Linked DNA regions of Homo sapiens. The protein of the gene in region 1 purifies or fractionates together with the protein of each later gene. This does not show direct contact. Each region holds a gene or a part of one and is shown in the gene's direction. Other genes may lie near its edges. The genes, in order: ARL8A and RDH14.

The links.
Region 2: the proteins of ARL8A (region 1) and RDH14 purify together in Homo sapiens (co-immunoprecipitation; 2 studies listed by BioGRID and IntAct, with this or other methods). This does not show direct contact.

What each region holds. Positions count from the first base shown.
Region 1 is NC_000001.11:202,137,873-202,141,783, reverse strand, and holds part of ARL8A (ADP-ribosylation factor-like protein 8A), read left to right. Parts: intron 1-3,335; coding exon 3,336-3,416; intron 3,417-3,745; coding exon 3,746-3,819; intron 3,820-3,911. UniProt on the Homo sapiens protein: Plays a role in lysosome motility. In neurons, mediates the anterograde axonal long-range transport of presynaptic lysosome-related vesicles required for presynaptic biogenesis and synaptic function. May play a role in chromosome segregation.
Region 2 is NC_000002.12:18,558,724-18,562,634, reverse strand, and holds the start of RDH14 (retinol dehydrogenase 14), read left to right. Parts: upstream 1-1,981; 5' UTR 1,982-2,062; coding exon 2,063-2,455; exon of another isoform or gene 2,456-2,459; intron 2,460-3,911. UniProt on the Homo sapiens protein: Retinol dehydrogenase with a clear preference for NADP. Displays high activity towards 9-cis, 11-cis and all-trans-retinol. Shows a very weak activity towards 13-cis-retinol. Has no activity towards steroid.

The sequences.
Region 1 (3,911 bases):
TTTCAAATATTTAAAAGTGTCAAAGACTGTCCTATGGAATAACTAGTCTTGGAGTGCCCAAGGGGACTTAGGAACAATGGGTGGACATTCTAGGAATGATAGATTTTTTTTTCTTTTTTTTCTTTTTTCTTTTTTTTTTTTGAGACAGAGTGTTGCTCTATCACCCAGGCTGGGAGTGCAGTGGTACAGTCTCGGCTCACTGCAACCTCCGCCTCCCAGGCTCAAGCAATTCTCCTGCCTCAGTCTCCCGAGTAGCTGGGATTACAGGCATACACCACCATGCCTGGCTAATTTTTGTATTTTTAGTAGAGATGGGGTTTCGTCATGTTGGCCAGGCTGGTCTCGAACCCCTGACCTCAGGTGATCTGCCTGCCTCAGCCTCCCAAAGTGCTGGGATTACAGGTATGAGCCACCATGTCCGGCCGGATTGTTAACTCAATATAAAGAACTTTCTGATAGTTGGAACTGACCCAAGAGGGGATGGGGCAGAAGGGACTGAAGTCTGAGACAAGAGGTTGGGCTGCATGACTTCAGGTTACTTCCAACCTTAAATGAGGAGCCTATGAGACAGGGAGGCATTAGCAGGGAAATTAAGTCATAATCTGATTCCACCTTAGCTCCGATTCACAGCTGAACAAGACCTACTGGTGCCGGGGAGCCTGGCTCCTTGAAGGTCCTCCCAGCATCCCCCTCTGCCAAGGTCACATTCTGCCAGGCTGGGCTTCTCATTTACTTGGTAGCCTGTGGATCTTCTAGTTGCCAAAGAGCAGTGATGGTTCCCCATGCTATATCGAAACCATTTCCAAGCATGTTGTGAGTCTTATTTACAGTTCCTAGGAGACCGAAACCCTTCTCCCCAGTTTTACATTCAGAAACACTGAGGTCCAGAGAAGTTCAAGTTTCTTATCCAAGCACCCCCTGGGATGAGAGACAAACAAGAACTGGGCCTCCTTCCTCAGACTCTATTGTTGGGGATGGGGTAGACTGCAGCAGGCTGCCGGGGTTTGGGTAATTACAGCACACTTAATTCTCCCTGCTTAGCTAGAAGAAGCCATTCCCTCTTCCTCAGTGGTTCCTAACTTTGGGGGCTCTCAGAACTTTTTGATATCTGAAAGAAGTGAGAGACCCTTTCTCCAGAAAAATGTACACACAAACAAAACTTTGCACACACACAGATTGTGTACAGTTTCAGGGGGTTCAGGGGATCTCTGAAGCCCAACTGTGGACCTCAGGTTGGAAACCGCTGCTGGACCTTGTCATTGGGTGTCAGTCCTGGGTACTCAGTTCTTATATCATCCTAAGGCCCTGATGAATAGGTGGTTCCTGCAGATAAAAGGGAATTGGGCTGGGCGCGGTGGCTCACGCCTGTAATCCCAGCACTTTGGGAGGCCGAGGTGGGCGGATCACGAGGTCAGGAGATCGAAACCATCCTGGCCAACATGGTGAAACCCCGAATCTACTAAAAATACAAAAAAAAAAAAAAAAAATTAGCTAGGCATGGTGGCACGCGCCTGTAGTCCCAGCTACTTGGGAGGCTGAGGCAGGAGAACTGCTTGAACCCAGGAGGCAGAGGCTACAGTGAGCCGAGATCACACCACTGCACTCCTGCCTGGGCGAGAGAGTGAGACTCCGTCTCAAAAAAAAAAAAGGGAATCAAAGCAGTCTATTCAGATGGGATATCAGGGGTCTTCATGTGGACATGGAGGCACCAAATAAGAGCCAATCATCTCCTACATCTTGGCTAATGGTCAGGGCCCCTGATCTCTTTATGTAACCCAAGGCAAATTATTCCTACCAGCTGGTGGGAGAAAAAGGCATGGTAAAGGAACAGGGCTTGGCCGGGCACCGTGGCTCACCCCTATAATCCCAGCGCTTTGGGAGGCCCAGGTAGGCAGATCACTTGAGGTCAGGAGTTCAAGACCATCCTGGCCAATGTGGTGAAACCCTGTCTCTACTAAAAATACAAAAATTAGCTGGGTGTGGTGGCACATGCCTGTGGTCTCAGCTACTGGGGAGGCTGAGGCAGGAGACCCTCGCTTGAGCCCAGGAGGCAGAGGCTGCAGTGAGCTGAGATCACATCACTGCACTCCAGCCTGGGCCATAGAGCGAGACTCTGTCTCAGAAAAAAAAAAAAAAAAAAAAAAAAAAAAAGGAACAGGGCTATCACCCTCAGGTTCAATGTTGAATGAGCCTCATCTTTTTTTTTTTCTCAAGCCGGAGTCTTGCTCTGTCACCCAGGCTGGAGTACAATGGCATGATCTCGGCTCACTGCAACCTCCACCTCCTGGGTTCAAGCGATTCACCTGCCTCAGCCTCCCAAGTAGCTGGGATTACAGGCACACGCCACCACACCCGGCTAATTTTTTGTATCTTTAGTAGAGATGGGGTTTCACCATGTTGATCAGGATGGTCTCAAACTCCTGACCTCGTGATCTGCCCCCTCAGCCTCCCAAAGTGCTGGGATTACAGGTGTGAGCCATCGCGCCCGGCCGAGCCCCATCTCTTTAGCCTGCTTCCAAGGGATAAGCAGAAGTGTCCTACCTGTGAACATGGAGATATGACCTGGGAGGGAGTTGGGTCTGGCCTTATTTGAAGACTGTAGGTAGTTTAGAAGAATCCAGAAATCCTAGAGACAATACAGAATGGATTTTGGAAAATGGAATTACAGTCAAACCCCCAGTATTCAGCAAACATTTACTAATGGTGTTACTATAGACCTGGGTCCTCTCCCAGGAAGTGTTCTTTCTAGTGAGGAGACACATAGATAAATAAGCAGACGATATAGAGTGTAGGTTATCCTTCCCAATAACTGGAGTACAGTACAAATAAACTGAACCATGGATAATCCAGAAATTGCTTGGCATGCACTGCATTTTCAGGATGACCAATATACTCTGCCCTAAAAAGTTTGATTTTTTAGTTTGAAAATTCATCTGCTTTCTTTGAGATCCTCCTTAACTATTAGAACATGACTTGCTTCAAGTTCTCTTGCTGGAAGGTAATTTCTTCTTCCTCTCCACTGGAGAGAAAGTGGCGTCAGTTACTACAGAGAGATGTAGGTTAGACTTGAGGAAGAATTTTCCCCTAGTCTAGGCAAAGAGATTGAGACTGTCTGACAAAAGCGGGTCTTTTCACAGGGCATCCCCAGGTGTAGGCGGGACACATAGGTTGGTGATAGCCCATCCTGCCTGAAAGCACAGGATGTGCAAGAGTACCCCACAGTGGGAAGTCTAGGAAGCTCTGGCCTGGCCTCTGCATGGTTCTCGCAGCCTCTTGGTCTGCGGTGGGGGCATATCGATTTTTGCACTGTTTCCCATTCTGAGTCTTCTTTCCAGTCAGGACAGTTCAACGAGGACATGATCCCCACCGTGGGTTTCAACATGCGCAAAATCACCAAAGGGAATGTGACTATCAAGGTGAGGGCCCAGAAGCTTGGGGGGTGCAGAGGACTGTTTTTGTGTGTGTGTGTGTGTGTGTGTGTGTGTGTGTTGGGGAGGGCAACGGAGGCCCCTGGGAGGAGCGAGCTGAAGTGGGGCAGAGGCCAGGGTCCCCCTGCTGAGGAGCTGGGAAAAGACAGTAGAAGACTTCTAAGGTAGACGGAGAGCGGGTGGAGACGGGGGAGAACTGGAGAGGAAGCCGGGGAGGCAGAGGAGAGTAGGGCAGGGTAGGAGGGGGCATTTGAGACCCAAGACACGTTTTGGTGGCCTGCCCACTACTGAGGCTATCTCACCCTCTTCTTGCTCAGCTCTGGGACATTGGGGGACAGCCGCGTTTCCGCAGCATGTGGGAGCGCTACTGCCGAGGAGTGAGCGCCATCGTGTAAGTACACGGGAGGCATCGCCAGACTCCAGCCTTACCCGGCCCCCCTAGCCCTGCTACCTTCGAGGACCTCAGAGGCGCAGGGTTTTATT
Region 2 (3,911 bases), on another chromosome or scaffold:
CAGCAGTTACACTGCAGGTCTAAGGATTCCTCCCTCCTCTTTTCCTCCTACCCTCTCCTGCTCTCTCTACCTCCACCTTCATCTCTACTCCACCTGTACATATGTATTCCACCCCTGGCTCTAGATGAGAGAAGACCACAGCTGAAACACATCTTCTGATGCTCCCTAATTTTATGTAAACCAGTCCAAAATATATCAGTTGTGACATGTGACACTGAGTACCTACCATTTTGTAGGTGTCCTCCCATGCAAAGACCACAAGAGGTACGCAGACACAATCCTATCCTCTAGGAAACTTGAAACCTTAACAATCTGGTCAAGGAAGTCAAATGTGCAAACTCAAACAGCCAATACTAGAAGGCTGTTTGTCTTCAGTGCCAGTGAGGGTCACACATGACCCTGAGGGTCACACATGAAGGGAGCAGAGATCTTTATAGGCTGGAAGTGGTCAGGAAAGAAAGACTTGAGGTAGCCTGTGATTTTGATGGATGGGCAAGATGTGGATGGGTAGAAAGGACAATAAAGTGGAAACATATGCTGGGGGATCAATGAGTTTGAGTAGCAGCTTCAAATTGGGGATAGGGTGGTGTAGGACCACCTCTCATGATTCCTGTTCCTGGTGCCTTGTATAATCCCCAGTAAGAGTGCTCTTTCCCACCTCTGAGCTCCATTCTCATTACTCATAAGAAACCTCCTGGAATCCATCCCTTTTTCTTTGTATTCTGACTATTAGTTGCATGTTACATCCTTCCCAAATGTAAGGGAGTGGAAGATGGATTATCACAATTATTGGGGAGTTTGTCTCAAACGACACAAGCTGTGGTTCTTTTTCCTTGTCTGGAGAACCTGCAATGGGTGGAGGGTGGGAAGTGGGAGATCACAGTTCCAGAAAGTAAGCACCCTGAGAGCAGAAATGGTGTCCCATTTCTCTGTGGCTCTAACAGGGAACAGGCAGGGCCAGGCACATATTGGATGGAGAGGCAGACGAACGAATGAGTCTTTAAAAGTAGCTTGGTCTACAGCTATGAAGTTTGTAGCTTGAAGAAGGGTCCCTGTGACACTAACCCTGATATTAATGAGGCATTTTACAGTGAGCCAAGCACTTTGCCTTCCATCGTTGTGTGTAATAGTCCTATGGAGAGGGCAGGGAGGCATTTGTAAATGGCCTGCTCAGAAGCCTATATTTACAATAAGTCCAAGCTTTTCCCACTGTACCTCTGCCAGTGTGAAGATCATTTGAAGATGGCTTTCTTTTTTTTAATAGGGACCAATGACATAATGTCTTGTTCAGTGGTTCTCAAAGTGTGGTTCCCAGATCTGCAGCAGCAGCAGCACCTGGAAACTTGTTAAAAGTGCAAATTATCAGGCCCCATCCTGTACCTATTGAATTAGAAACTCTAATACTGGGGCCCTGGTTTTTTGTTTTCGTTTTGTTTCATTCCCCCACCCCGAACCCCCACCCCAAGTCCTCCAGGTGATTCTGATGTGCATTTAAGTTTGAGAACTACTCGACCATTCTATTTCCAACTGATTCATGTTGCTTAATTCTTTGTCTCATCTATGAAAAACAGTCCTACCTCAGACTTCAGCTTGTCAGGGCCCATTCCTCAGAAGGTGAATTGAACTGAATTTACAAGTCCCAAGAGCCCTCAAAGGAAAACACACGAAATGCCCTGAGGAGTGGCATTTGTAACAGGGCCTGTACAGAGATCTGTGATTCAAAGTACTCATCAGACATTCCCATGGGGAAGTCCGCCACTACTCTGGGATTTCAATACGTATGAACCCCAGCACCCTGAACACTGTGCTGGTTGCCCAGCCTCCATCATTAGGCTGGGAGGAGCTTCCACGGAGGGCGCAGGACCCAGGGCGCTGAACTCTCACAACCAATCAGGCGACCCCCCCAGAGGGAAACTACAAGTCCCAGCATGCCCCACGCGCACCGTCAGGGGCCGACCCGCCGCGCCCCAGCGTTCTCCGCGTACAGGTGGTCTCTTGGGTTCCGGTAAGGCGGCGGCTGCGGAACTCCCGTGGAGGGGCCGGTGGGCCCTCGGGCCTGACGATGGCAGTGGCCACTGCGGCGGCAGTACTGGCCGCTCTGGGCGGGGCGCTGTGGCTGGCGGCCCGCCGGTTCGTGGGGCCCAGGGTCCAGCGGCTGCGCAGAGGCGGGGACCCCGGCCTCATGCACGGGAAGACTGTGCTGATCACCGGGGCGAACAGCGGCCTGGGCCGCGCCACGGCCGCCGAGCTACTGCGCCTGGGAGCGCGGGTGATCATGGGCTGCCGGGACCGCGCGCGCGCCGAGGAGGCGGCGGGTCAGCTCCGCCGCGAGCTCCGCCAGGCCGCGGAGTGCGGCCCAGAGCCTGGCGTCAGCGGGGTGGGCGAGCTCATAGTCCGGGAGCTGGACCTCGCCTCGCTGCGCTCGGTGCGCGCCTTCTGCCAGGAAATGCTCCAGGTGTGGGCCTCGGGGGGCCGGGCTGGTGGGGAGGGCCTGGGCACGGTGTGGGAGGGGACTGCGGGCTGGGGCTGAGCCGCGAGGGACCGCCCTGGGGTTCAGGGTGTCACCTTGGGAACCGCTGAGGCTGAGAGGAGTCCAAAAAGCCACTTTGAGGCGGCCGGGAAGCTGCAGGGTTGAGAGGGAAAGAGAAACTAACTGGGAGGGCTGCCTTCTGTCCTCTAAGGATGTCGAAAAAGAAATGGGCCCAAGAGAAAAATAAATAAACCAGTTTCTGAACGTTTCATTTCGTTACGTGAGGACCGCCCCGAAGTAGATCCATGGCCTCTGAATTGTTTTTCCTGTGTCAGAAGTGAATTTGCACCAAGCTGTGTCTTCAGAACCCCTGAGCACTGGGGGAAGTTGCTAGCTAAGGACCTCATATCAGTCCTTTAAAAAAAGTTCTCCTTCCCCCGGCCTCTGCCCCTTTTCTGCTGGGGTAAGGAGCTCGCTGCCACCAGTAAACTCAGCACCATCCTTAACGGGACTGTGGCCTGATTTCCAAGTAGAATACATTTTGGAACCCAGTGGTCATGCTCCATACAGAGACAGGAATAAAAATAACACCCAGCATTATTGAAGATCTGTATGCCAGGAGCTGTGCCAAGCATTTCAGATTTTCCTTTTTGTCTTAAATGAAAATGAAGTGTCCTTGCCTATAACTGTCATTGAAGCTACACAGTAACCCTGTGGAGTAGGCATTATTATCATCCCTGTTTTACAACGCGAGGAAACTGAGGCATAGGAAGGCTAAGAAACTTGCTTGTGGTCTGTCTCCAGAACACTTGCTTTTAACCCTTGTTCTTTCCTCCTGCTGCCTGGCAGTGAGGTGTGAGGATTTCTTTGTGCAAATGGTAAGTAATTCCACATAAGTGGATGTTCTCCGTTGAGATTGAGGTAGAAGAGTTTCTTGCAGGGATAACTGGCATTCAGAGGGCATTTGTTCAGAAGAGTGAAATTTAAAATTAGCTGGGACAAGAAAGGTGCCTATATGACGTAGAGTCTCTTGAGTCTAGAGAAGAGGTTCCCAAATTTTCTCAGTAATTTTTTCATGATGCCCTTAGGCCAGAAATATTTCCCAGTTCATTTATTTAGAAAGTTTATTTTGCCAAGGTTAAGGATGCACCCGTGGCAGAACCTCAGGCGGTCCTGAGGACATGTGCCCAAGGTGGTCGGGGCACAGCTTGGTTTTATACATTTTAGGGAGACATGAGACATCAATCACATATGTAAGGTATACATTGGTTCTCCTGGAAAAGTGGGACAACTCGAAGTGGGGGCTTCCAGGTCATAGGTAGATGGGAGACAAAAGGTTGCATTCTTTTGGGTCTTTGATTAGCCTTTTACTGAATACAATTTACATGTGCAGGAGGGATAGAGGAATAATCACTTATGTCTTAGACTGGCTCAGTGAGTC